3 separate regions of the Homo sapiens genome follow, and regions 2 and 3 are each linked to region 1. The links come from fine-mapping of genetic effects on gene expression. A gene starts in region 1. Each other region holds a variant in brackets. All regions are shown on one strand. Distances are from middle to middle.

Region 1 (4,000 bases):
CCTGTGACACCAGGGCCACAGGAGGAGATGCAGCGATGGGCCATTCCTAGTGAGACACAGACACAGGGCTGGCTGGAGAAGAAACCTTTTGAGCTGTGGGGCTGTCTTCCTAGAAGCTGCCAACCCCTGGAACCACTAAGAGGTCAAGGCTGAAGTGTGCCACTTCCACAGTCTGCTAAGGAGTGCCTCCCCCTGAGTCAGGGACAATTCTTGCTCTACTTTTCAGGATCCTTGGGCACACTGCTGGCCCGAGACATTTACTTCCCATTTAAAATTAAGTAATCAAAATACCAGGGTCGATTACTCTGAACTCTTGCTTATGTAAACTTTAGGGATAAAACTGTAGTAAGACACAAAATGCTAACAATAAAATATAAATTAGACTACATTAAAACTAAGACCTTCTTTTCATTAAGGACACAGTAGACTTGAACACCACCATTAAGCAACTTAGCTTGATTTACACTTGTAGAACACCCCATTCACGAGTAGCATAGAAACAGTCACCAAAATAAAGAGCAGAAATCAAACGAAAAAGCAAAAATAGAGGAAAATCAATCAAAACCTAGTTTTTCGAAGAGATCAATAAAACTATCAGTCTTGCAATAAGCTTATCAAAGAAAAAAGGGAAGAGAAATGACCAATGTCAGGAATGAAAAAGTATATCACCACAAACCCTTCAAGATATTCCAACAATAATAATAAATAATACTATGTACATCTTTATGTACCTAAATTCAATCAATTGGATGAAATAAACCAATTGCTTGAAAACCAAAAACTACCAAAACTCACTGAAGATTAAATAGATAAGCTGAAGTTGAAACCCTTCCAAAAAAGGCAGTTTCTGAAGCCAGATGATTTCACTGGTGAATTTTACTAAACTTGTAAAGAAATGGCAATTCGATACACTGAATTCCAAAAATAAAAGGGGACCGAGCACTTCTCATTTTATAAGGTCAACAATCACTCTGATACCAAAACTAGAGAAAAATACTAGAGACCAACATCCCTTATGAATATATGCACGAAAATCCTCAACAAAATATGAGGAAATCAGATCTAGCCAGGTACGAAGAATATAAGACACCAGGACGAAGTGGGGTTAATTGAGGAATGGAATTCAAGCATTCCAAAGTTCAACATTCAAAACCAATATAACTGAAAAGTTCAACATTCAAAAACCAATATAACTCACTATATTAATAGTCTGAAGAAGGAAAAACACATGGTTATATCAATTAATGCAGAAAAGGCATTTGATAAAATTCAATCTCCATTTGTAATAAAAACTCTCAAACTAGGAATTGAAGGAAACTTCTTCAACCTGATAAAGAACATCTACAAAAAACCTATAGCTAACATCATACTTAATGATGAAAAACTGAATTCTTTCCCCACAGGATAAGGTCCAAGGGTGACCAGCCTCACCACTCCTATTCAGCACAGTATTAGAAGTCCTAGCCAGTGTAATATGGCAAGAAAAGTTAAAAGGCATTAGCAAAGAGCCTGGAAAGGAGAAAATCACAGATAACGTAATTGTCCACACAGAAAATCCCAACAAATCTTTTTAAAAAAGAAAAACCCTCGTAGAATCAACGAGTTTAGTAAAGCCACAAGATACAAGGTTAACACACAAAAAGCAGTCGTATTTCTATATATTAGCAATGAACAACTGGAAACTGAAATTTAAAATTGAATACTATTTGTCTGTCTCAAAAAAAAGTATCAATTCTCCCGAGATTGTTGTATTAGGTTTAACACAATTACCATCAAAATCCCAGGGTTTTTTTGTTTTTGTTTTTTTTTAAGACACAGATAAACTTGTTCTAACAAGCTTGGTATGATATTGTTATCAGCAGACCTATTTCAATTTCACTGGTTTTTACATAGTATCTGATGTTAGGCAAACCTGAGTTTAAGGGCACAGTGCTCCAGGTGGCTGGCCAAGTCTGCCCAGGCCTTCTGATACTGACTGCAGGTCCAAGAGTTTCCCACAACCACCTTCAGGTTGGATGATTCGTTGATGAGGCACACAGAGCTCACTGACACCTGTCATGCTCACAGCCATGTCTATTACCAGGAAAAGATACAGATTAGAACAGCCCCAGGGCTGCAACTGCAGAGACTGGTCACCCTCTCCCTCTGAGCTCAACAGTTTCTGAGTCCTGAGTCTTTCTAGCCAATCACTGGGTCTGAGAGTGGTTTCCTGCCCCCCACAACACAAGTTCTATGAAATTGTATGACACACATCAATTCAGGTAACCACTGCTACAATGAGGAGGCAAAACTTCCATCGCCCCTGAAAAACTCCTCCTTACTTTTTATAGTAACACCCTCCTAATCCCAGCAACCTCTAATCCCTTCTTCATCACCATAATGTTGTTCCTTCAATACTGTTACATAAATGGAATCATGGTATAGAACCTTTTAAGACTGGCTTTTGTCACTAAGCATAATACCTGTAAGGTCCCTTCAAGTTGTTTTATGTGTGTTCTTCTTCATGGCTGACTAGTATTCCACTGCATGGATGTACCACAATTTCTTTATCCACTCACTCATGGAGTGACAGAAACTCCTGTACAATTTTTGGAAGTCTATATGAATCTAAAATTATTTCAAAGTGTGTAAGAAGATAAGATATACTCATAGGGCAAAAATACACCAGGTAAAGACAAACAACACACAAGACCAAGGTGACACAGTCTAATCAGACAAGATTAAAAGAAAGGCCAAAAGCATTAAAGGAGACCAAGAAGGAAATTTAACAAGATATAATCACCACTGAAAAATCCATAGGCCAGACTATGTACCAACACAACATTCAAATTTAAAGAGGAAACAGTATGGGAAATTCAGGCAAAGGATACAGAAAATTCATTATATTAACTTACCACATGAAAGGACACAAAACCTCAGTGATTCCAAAGAGTAGATCTAATATAGATGACTTCTTGGTCGGGCATGGTGGCTCAGACCTGTAATCCCAGAACTTTGGGAGGCCGAGGCGGTTGGATCACTTGAGGTAAGGAGTTTGAGACCAGCCTGGGCAACATAGCGAAACCCCATCTCTACTAAAAATACAAAAATTAGCTGGGCATGGTGGTGGGCGCCTGTAATCCCAGGCTACTCGGGAGGCTGAGGCAGGAGAATCGCTTGAACCTGGGAGGCAGAGGTAGCAGTGAGCTGAGATCACACCATGGCACTCCAGCCTGGGCAATGAAGTGAGGCTCTGTCTTAAAAAAATAATAATACAGATGACATCTCTAATCACTATGCAATCTAATTTAAAGACGAGTGACAGGACTAGGGGAAATTCTCTAGCACAGCAAAATTTAAAAACTCTTGGGTACAAGAGAAAATCAAAATGAAGGCCACAGAAAATCTAGAAGCTTATGATCAACACACACCTATCTATACAATACTGCAAAATAACTCAGGGCCCAAGAAAAAAGTAATAGCTTTATGTATTCATCTACTTCCATTATTTTTTATTTAGTAAAATAACTCAAAAAACTGAAAAAAAAAAACTGAAGAAAAGCAGGAATAATATAAAAGCAAAATTAGTAACTGAATCCAATCTAGGAAAATGAAAACACAAGAAAAGGAAAAAAAACATAACTACAAAAGAGTTTCAATACTTTGGGGTCAATATTACATAAAGTAATTTGAAGACTTCCAGCAGAGATTTAAAACAATCCAATGGTAAAAGAAATGGATAAGGTTGTCAAGAGTTAATCCCATCCTCACCTACATCATCAGAAGCAGGAATGCAGACCTGCAATATGCATTTTAAGAAGCTCTCTAGGCAAATCTGATGCATGCTCAAGCGGGGAGAACTACTGGATAAAAGAGGTCAGTAAGAGGCCTGGAACGGTGGTTCATGCCTGGAATCCCAGCACTTTGGGAGGCTGTGGTGGGTGGATTGCTTGAGCTCAGGGGTTTGAGACCAACCTGGGCAACATGGCGAAACCACCTCTACAAAAAACACGAAATTTAG
Region 2 (4,133 bases), 100 kb after region 1:
ACTCTGTCACCAAAAAAAAAAAAAAAAAAAATCCCAGCTCTGCCACTTTCTATCTGGGTGACCTCGGGTGAATGAATCCCTCTGAGCCTCAGATTTCAGGAAATGGGGACAAAAGCAGCACCTGTTTCTTATGGTTGCTAAGAATTAAATAAGCAATTGAATGTGAATGTGCCCCGCCTCAGCAGCTCCGCAAACACCTATTAAATCTGAAGGCGATGATGACTGCCTCTGTTATTACAGCAAAAAAAAAAAAAGAACTTTGTAGGACAAATCAGAAACCAAACTGTTTTCTGAAAAACAAAAAAAACATTTATTTCTGTAAACTGTCTGAGTGCAGAGATGTTCTTTACAATCCCAATACAGTACAGATTTCTTCCCCAAAACGAAATGAGCAAGGAAAAACAGAAAAAGAGCTATATCAAATGTGCTCATGAAGAACCAAGCCAATCTCACCTTTCTTTAAAAACAAAACAAAACGATCCTTTTGAATGTGTGGTGCAGACGCAGGACTGAAGCCACAGGCTTTTGGGGTGCTGTGAGCCCAGGGCTTTGCTCAGCTCACAGCTAGCGCGGCGGGCAGAGCAACCCTTCGGCCCAAGCCATCCTCGCAGCTTACACAGAAGCTTCCTGAACCTAAGGGATCCGTTCCCAGCTCTCCTTAAATTCCCAGTCCCCACCCTGGGCCTCTCTCCCTAACGATCTTGTCGCTTTGGGAGCCCCTGAAGTGAACCCTGAAATACTCCCTCCGTCAACTCTGGGCTCAGACCTTTGCCCTTCTCTGTGTCACAAGGAAATTTCGGTCAAGAGGGTGGGAACAGGTGGTTTCAGACCGTGCAGCAAAGCCACTGCCAGGTAAGTTTTAAGGCAAATTTTATCTCTTCTTATTCAGTCTGAGCCGGACCTAACCTTCTCACCACCGAGCAATCCTGCCTATGCTGGACATGCATCTTAGGCAACTCCGGATGGAGGTGGGATGAGGGAGCCCGGGGCAGATACCAGGAGGTCTGGGCCTTAGTAGGGAATGGACGTGTGTGCTTATGAAGGCTGCAGGCACCGGGCACAGCTCCTGGCCCAGCTGCCCCTCAGTGGTACACAGGAAGCAGGGTCCAGGAAAACTGAGATGGCAAAATAGGCCCGGGCTCTGGAAAGCAACGTGAGGTCATGCAGATCTCACTAGGCAGACCTCGTCGCGTGGAAGAGAAATGCCAGGAAAAGGGGTCACTGCAGGAGGCACCTCGGATCTGATGGCAGGCAGGACCTTGCATCAAAATGACTTTTCTTTAGAACAAAAAAGAGGGGGAGAAAAGAAAAAGAAGATCAAAGAAAGAGGTTCCATGAGCGTCATGAGATAGGACACGGCAGGGTTCTAAGGGAAGCGGGAAGGTGGGGGCTGTGGACACAGGGTGGCGGGCGCTGCCTCTCATGGCTTCTTTTCTCCCTGGTGGGCTGGTGGGCTAGTAGCTGAGGCCGGCGGTCCTCTCCCCCGGGGAGCAGGCAGATGACTTTGGCAAGGGGTGGTGTGGCGGGGGCTGGGGTTACTCCGTCTGGGCGTCGTAATTGGCTCCCCCCGCCTTCTTCAGCTCGCTCTTGATGAAATCTTCCTCCAGCTCCTTCCGATCACTGATCACAAACTCCTTAGCGAAATTCTGCAAGAACAAAGGAAAACACAGCGTTCCTAT[T/C]AAGAAGGAAGGCACAGGATGTGAGGGTGGCTCAGGCAACACACTGGGAAGCAAAGCACTGAAAACCCTGATGAGAGATGGAAATGGAAATTCAGCAGCAGAGTCAGTCAATGGAAATTCAGCAGCAGAGTCAATGGAAATTGAACAGCAGAGTCATCTGGCAGAAAAAACCTGACTGGGAGGAGGGAGTGGGGCAGATCTGATGCTGCGTCTTCCCATGTCCGTGGGGATGGCCCGAGGAAGCTGGGGCTTGAATTTGGGCTGTTACCTTGGCCAAGTCCCTTCAATTCTCTGTGCCTCAACTTTCTCATCTGTAAAAAACTATCTCGTCAGGAAAATAATAGGTTACGAGGTTGGAAAGGCTCACGGGTGTGCAGGCACTCCAAAAAAAAGAAAAGGACAAAAGCTCAGATTGGTGTCTTTTGCCCATATCCATGATGTAAATAGTCCCCCAGTGGCTGACGTCAAGCTATCAAAGTGATGTCACCATACGTGGAGGTGGAAGGAGACAGGCGTAATTGGCTCTCGCCAGCTGGGACAAGCAAGCTTCAGCCACCAATGTTCCTAATGACGCAGGAGCCTCCAGTCCTGGGTCTGCCATGGGCTCTCCACCCGCACTGAGTTACACGAGGGTAGAGGCTCTGCCTTCTTTCAACAAATACCACGCCAGGCTGTGGGGCTACAGGGCTCAGCAAAATGGATGCAGTCAGTCTTTCCTCTTGCAGTACACAGGTTTCACCCATAGAACCCGCAGGCACCCATGATGCACTCAGTAAACGCTTGTGGCATGAATGAGGGAACCAGGTGACCTGGCTTATCAGACACCCTTAAGCCATGATGATACACAGTTACTGCCATATGTGGATCATAAGACTTTAACAAACAAAATTTCAGAACGATGACGGACAGCTTGACAAAAAAAAGCTATCAAAACCACAAATAACACGTCTAAAGGTAAGAAAATCATCCACATTAAAAAAAAAAGCCCATAAGGAAATAACATAAACAATGACCACCATTTTTCTTTTTCTTGAGAGAAAAGCCTGTTGCCCAGGCTGGAGTGCAGTGGCGCAATCTTGGCTCACAGCAACCTCTGCCCCCAGGGTTCAAGCCATTCTCATGTCTCAGCCTCCCAAGTAGCTCGAACTACAGGCGTCTGCCACCACACCCAGCTATTTTTTGTATTTTTAGTAGAAGCAGGGTTTCGCCACATTGGCCAGGCTGGTCTCAAACTCCTGGCCTTAAGTGATCCGCCCAGCTTGGCCTCCCAAGGTGTTGGCACTACAGGCGTGAGCCACCACGCCCGGCTAACCACAATTATTAAGCACTTATGTGTACCAGCACAGTGCCACAGTACTGAGAATGACACACAGTAGTAAATATGAATCATGGAAGGTGGAAGCAACCCCTATGTCCATCAACAGAGGAGTGGATTATCAAAACACGGTCCGTCCACACAATGGAATATTCCTCAGCCACAGAGAGGAATGAAGCGCTGCCACACGCAACTACATGGATGAACCTCGGAAACAGGATGCTGAGTGAAAGAAGCCAGGCATGAAGACCATGTACTGTCAGCTGCCATTGGTATAAATGTCTAAAAAAGGCAAACCCATACAGACAGAAAGCAGACTCGTGGTTACACAGAGCTGGAGATGGGAACAGGAAATGATAGAGACGTTCTAAAATTGGGATTGTGGTAATGGGTGCACAACTCCACAAATTCACGAAAAAGTACTGAAAAAGTACACTTAGGATGACTTGATTTTGAGGTACATACATCATACCTCAATCAAGTTCTTTTTAAAAAGGCCCGTAAGGTGATCAACATTATTTCCATTTTAAAGGTGAGGAAACAAAGGCTGGAAATTACAATGCTTGTCCGAAGTCAGACAACCAGAAGGTCCAGTTGATGCCAAAGCTGGCGTCTTGAAAGAGCCACCATCTCCTTTTGGGGTGATGAAAAAGTTTTGGAACCAGACAGAGGTAGGGCTTGCACAACACTGTGAATGTTCTGAAAGCCACTGAATTGTACACTTTAAAATGGTTCAGGCCAGGTGCGGTGGCTCACGCCCGTCATCCCAGCACTTTGGAGGCCGAGGCAGGCAGATCACCTGAGGTCAGGAGTTCGAGACCAGCCTGGCCAACATGGCGGAACCCCATCTCTACTAAAACTACAAAAATCAGCCGGGCGTGGTGGCGGGCGCCTGCAATCCCAGCTACTGGGGAGGCTGAGGCAGGAGAATCGCTTGAACCCGGGAGGCGGACGTTGCAGTGAGCCAAGATCGCGCCACTGCACTCCAGCCTGGGCGACAGGGTGAGATCTGTCTCAAAATAAATAAATAAACATAAAAAGGTTCATTTTATGTTAAATGAATTCCACCACAATTAAAAAATAAAAAACAAAAAAGTCGCCATATTGCCAAGAATGATGAGCCCAGGAGCATCCCGAAG
Region 3 (4,000 bases), 35 kb after region 1:
CTGAGTACCTGAGTCCCCCTGTTCCAATTTCCAGTGTCGACACCTAGGAGTGGACTTGCTGGGTCACATGGTAATTCTGTTTAACATTCTGAGGGGCCGCCAAGTGCTCTCCACTCTATAATCCCATCAGTAAAGCATGAGCTTCCATCTATCCACACCCCCACTAAAGCGAGTTATTTCTCCGCCTTTTATATGACACCCATCTTCGCAGCGGATGGGCCTTTAACAGGCCTCACTGCTAATGTGCCCCTCTGCACAGGAAGTCTCCACTGGGGGGCTCCTTGGAAGGGGATGGGGGTGCACTTTACACAGACAGGCTGGAAACGAGGGCTTACCCGACCCCGTTTGGGTGCTCACCCACGCCCCATCTGATCTCACCGCTTCCACTCCTCACGTTTCGCAGCAGCAGAAGAGCCCAGAAGGAAAACCTCCAGCCTGGACTCAATGTCCAGCGGCAGGCGGCTGTCCCCAGCTCTGAAACAGAGGGGCTGCACCGGCTGAGTCTGGGTGCTGCAGGGACACAGCCCAAGCAGCCAAAACAAAGCAGACCCACCCTCTGCATCAACTCGAAGAGCCTGCAAGGTGGGCCACACCATCTCCTGAGGTCAGGAGTTCGAAACTAGGTTGGCCAACGACATGAAACCCCATCTCTACTAAAAATACAAAAAAATTAGCCAGGCATGGTGCTGTGCACCTGTAATCCCAGCTACTTGGGAGGCTGAGGCAGAAGAATTGGTTGAACACGGACAGCGGAAGTCGCAGTGAGCCGAGACCACGCCACTACACTCCAGCCTGGGCAACAGAGTTAGACTCGTCTCAAAAAAAAAAAGAAAAAAAAAAAAAAAAAAAAGAGGGGAAACAGAGACAAGGGCATGGGGATGGGTGTGGCCTGGGGGTGTAACAAGAAGAGTGAAGAGTGGAAAAGGTCCCAAAGGTCACATTCCAGCTGAGTCTTCAGAGACTCACAGGTGATTCACCAGGAAGTGGGAACAGCACGCACGGGGCATAAGCAAGAGCGTTGGGATCAGCGAGGCAAGGGTGGAACTCAGGGCACGTGGGGGAGGGCAGCAGAGGGCTGCAGCAGAAGGGGGCCCAGGCCTGACTCCACCCAGCCCCTCACTTCCATCCCACCCCAACTCCCACTTTCTGCCAGAAACAGGCTCCCCCACTGTGGTCGGAGAACAGCAGCAGGGTGCAGCCTGGCCAGCCCTCACCAACCCCAGACAGCCGGGAGAAAGGTGCAGGGCTGGGCAAGTGCCAACAGGCAGGACAGGAACCCAGAAATGCACAGAAGCGGCGCAGACCAGGGCAGGCCCAGGAGATGACAGGAAAGGCTTGGACGCAGAGCCAGGCTGGCAACGCCACTTTTTCAAGCAGGAGAGAGGAGGTTGCATGGGAGGCCCCAGTAGGAACCCCAGGGCTGGTGCCAGTGAGGTGGGAAGGTGGGCAGCCCCTAAGAACACAGCGCTGTCCACAGCACTGCCATTCTTAGTACCTGCAGAGTGCTGGTGAAGGGACACGTCTCAGAACGGCTCAAGGACAGCCCGTCTCCTTTGAGAGCCCCGTGCCAGGCAAGATAAAGAAATGGCAATGGTGTGGTGGCTCACGCCTGTAATCCCAGCACTTTGGGAGGCCGAGGCGGGTGGATCTCCTGAGGTCGGGAGTTCGAGACTAGCTGGACCAACATGGAGAAACCCTGTCTCTACTAAAAATACAAAATTAACCGGGTGTGGTGGTGCATGCCTGTAATCCCAGCTACTTGAGAGGCTGAGGCAGGAGAATTGCTTGAACCCAGGGGGCGGAGGTTGCAATGAGCCAAGATCATGCCATTGCACTCCAGCCTGGGCAACAAGAGTGAAACTCGGTCTCAAAAAAAAAAAAGACAATGCACGCTGGTGCTGGTGCTGACAGCGCACATCAAGGTTGCTTGTACCAGTGGAGCTCGACTGGAGCAGTTTCGTCCCCCAGGGGCATTTGGCAATGACTGGAAAAGTGTGTGGTTGCCACAACTGGGGGAGGGGAGTGCCGTTGGCATCTAGCAGGCAGAGGCCAGGGATACTGCTAAAAATCCTACAGTGCACAGGATGGCCTTACGACGAGGAAGTGTCCGTCCCAGACATCGGTAGGGCTGAAGGTGAGAAAACCTGGCTTCTGAGGATGTAGGGCAGCGGAACAAAATGGAAG[C/T]GGAACTTGATACAAGGGAACCCACAGAAGTCTCGAGGCCAATGTAGGGTTGTGTTATGCACAGCTTTGCAGAGAAGAGGCCACCCCATGTACCCAGGTGTACTGTGAAAGTCCCATGACACCGAGAAAACTTGCCAGGGACTGAAAGCTTTCCATCATCAAGCCTATAATCCCAGAACTTTGGGAGGATCATTTGAGGCCAGGAGTTTGAGACCAGCCTGGGCAACATAGTGAGACTTCGTCTCTGCCAAAAATACAAACCTCAGCCGGGTGTGGTGGCGTGTGACTATAGTTCCAGCTATTCAGGAGGCTGAGGTGGGAAGATCGCTTGAACCAGGAGGCAGAGGTCGCAGTGAGCCAAGATCACAACAGTGCACTCCAGCCTGGGTGACAGAGCAAGACTCTGTCTCATAAAAACACAAACAAAAGTTCCAGCAGCCCATAATAAGTGACCAAGATGTTTTGCTTGACCAGACTTTAGTCAGGCTCCTGGGCCCATCTGTGTACCTCTTTGTAAAATCTGGTTTTAGCAAAACAAAAAACAAACAAACAAAAAAACCCACAAAACCACTCATCCTTGATATTTGATCACCATTATCTGTTCACTTGCTATCTAACCAGGTTTAATGCTTAGGTTAGGGATATCCAATCTTTCAGTTTCCCTGGGCCACACTGGAAGAACTGTCTTGGGCCACACATAAAACCCACTAACAATAACTGATAAGTGCATATATCTACATATATGGTAAAAAAAAAATCTCATGTTTTAAGAAAGCTTATGAATTTGTGTTGGATGTCATTCAAAGCCGCCTTAGGCCACATATGGCCCACGGGTTGGACGAGCTTGCCCTAGGTGATGTCTGATCACCCTGGCCTGCCTTCAGTAACAAACTGCTAGGTAAGCTTACCCAGAATCCACCCTAGCGCCCTGATGTTTCCTCAGTCATCTTCCATCCACTGATCCCCACCCTGCTTCCTGGCTTCCCACTTGCCCATGCTATAATCAGAGTTGAGCCCAATCTCTCTCCTTTACTACAAAATCCCATTGCTGTGGTCCCTATACCCATTGCAATGGTCTTCAATAATTAATGTGCTTTTAATAAGCATCATTAATTAATTTCTTTAACATAAGGTTGAGAAGATTAAATAAGGTAACCCAGGGCATTTGATCTGCTTACTGGAGGTCAGAGACAGAATAATGGGCCCAAGACAACAGAGAATGGCTCCTTGGGATCTTGTCTTAGAACAAGAGAAACTGCCCTGCTTGGAAGAAACGGAAGGTTGCTCTGCCTCCGTGATGGAGGGGTGGACAGGGACCGATTGTCTGCAGGATGGCCCCCAAGGTTCCCACTAGTATCCTAGGAATGGCTTAGTCACCTCCTGCTCAGAGCTTCTCCAACAGGCTGTTACATGGCTGCTTCCCACCCTGGCTGCCAAGCTCCAACTCTCTACTCCAAGGGCCCCGCATCCCTAGAGCCACACAAGGGTCCCTCCGTACCCCCACAAGCTGGGGAGATTCCAACTGCCTCATCTGGACAGGCTTCGAAGTCCTGTCTGTGTCTCAGAGCCCAGAGGCCCTTGTGCGAAGGGGCAGCTTGAGCCTGGGCAAGAAGTTCCTGTGGGCCAGAAGGTGACCTGTCCTGTGCTGGCCACCTACATGGCCTGGGAACAGTTATCAGCTCACTGTCCTGGAAAAGCCCAGATGGGTGTGGTCAGAATACAAGAAGGAAAACCCCCTCCACACACACTTCAGTGTCTACCCCAGACTCGCCTCCTCCGTGGAGGCACCCCTCCCTTTCCGCGTCTACACAGGCTC

Alleles and levels. Alleles are on the strand shown, and positions count from the first base shown. SD is a standard deviation of normalised expression in the study named. Not every link is listed here.
As copies of T replace C in region 2, the expression in neutrophils of the gene that starts at base 1,970 in region 1 goes down (large effect, 0.77 SD a copy in BLUEPRINT).

What was found.
Region 2: its variant is fine-mapped to the expression of ATP2C2-AS1 in neutrophils (BLUEPRINT, PIP 0.95).
Region 3: its variant is fine-mapped to the expression of ATP2C2-AS1 in esophagus mucosa (GTEx, PIP 0.98).

Annotation. Positions count from the first base shown.
Region 1 is chr16:84,465,392-84,469,391 of GRCh38, forward strand. It overlaps ATP2C2-AS1 (ATP2C2 antisense RNA 1), which reads right to left and starts at 1,970. Exons shown (of 3, transcript NR_146503.1): 1 at 1,913-1,970.
Region 2 is chr16:84,565,310-84,569,442 of GRCh38, forward strand. It overlaps COTL1 (coactosin like F-actin binding protein 1), which reads right to left. Exons shown (of 4, transcript NM_021149.5): 4 at 287-1,646. The coding sequence ends at 1,536. Among named protein-coding and RNA genes, the nearest start is that of COTL1, 51 kb to the right of the region's middle. The variant T/C (reference allele first, on the strand shown) is at 1,680.
Region 3 is chr16:84,500,276-84,504,275 of GRCh38, forward strand. All of the region lies in intron 1 of MEAK7 (MTOR associated protein MEAK7), which reads right to left. Among named protein-coding and RNA genes, the nearest start is that of MEAK7, 2.4 kb to the right of the region's middle. RefSeq lists an enhancer at 3,794-4,000. The variant C/T (reference allele first, on the strand shown) is at 2,185.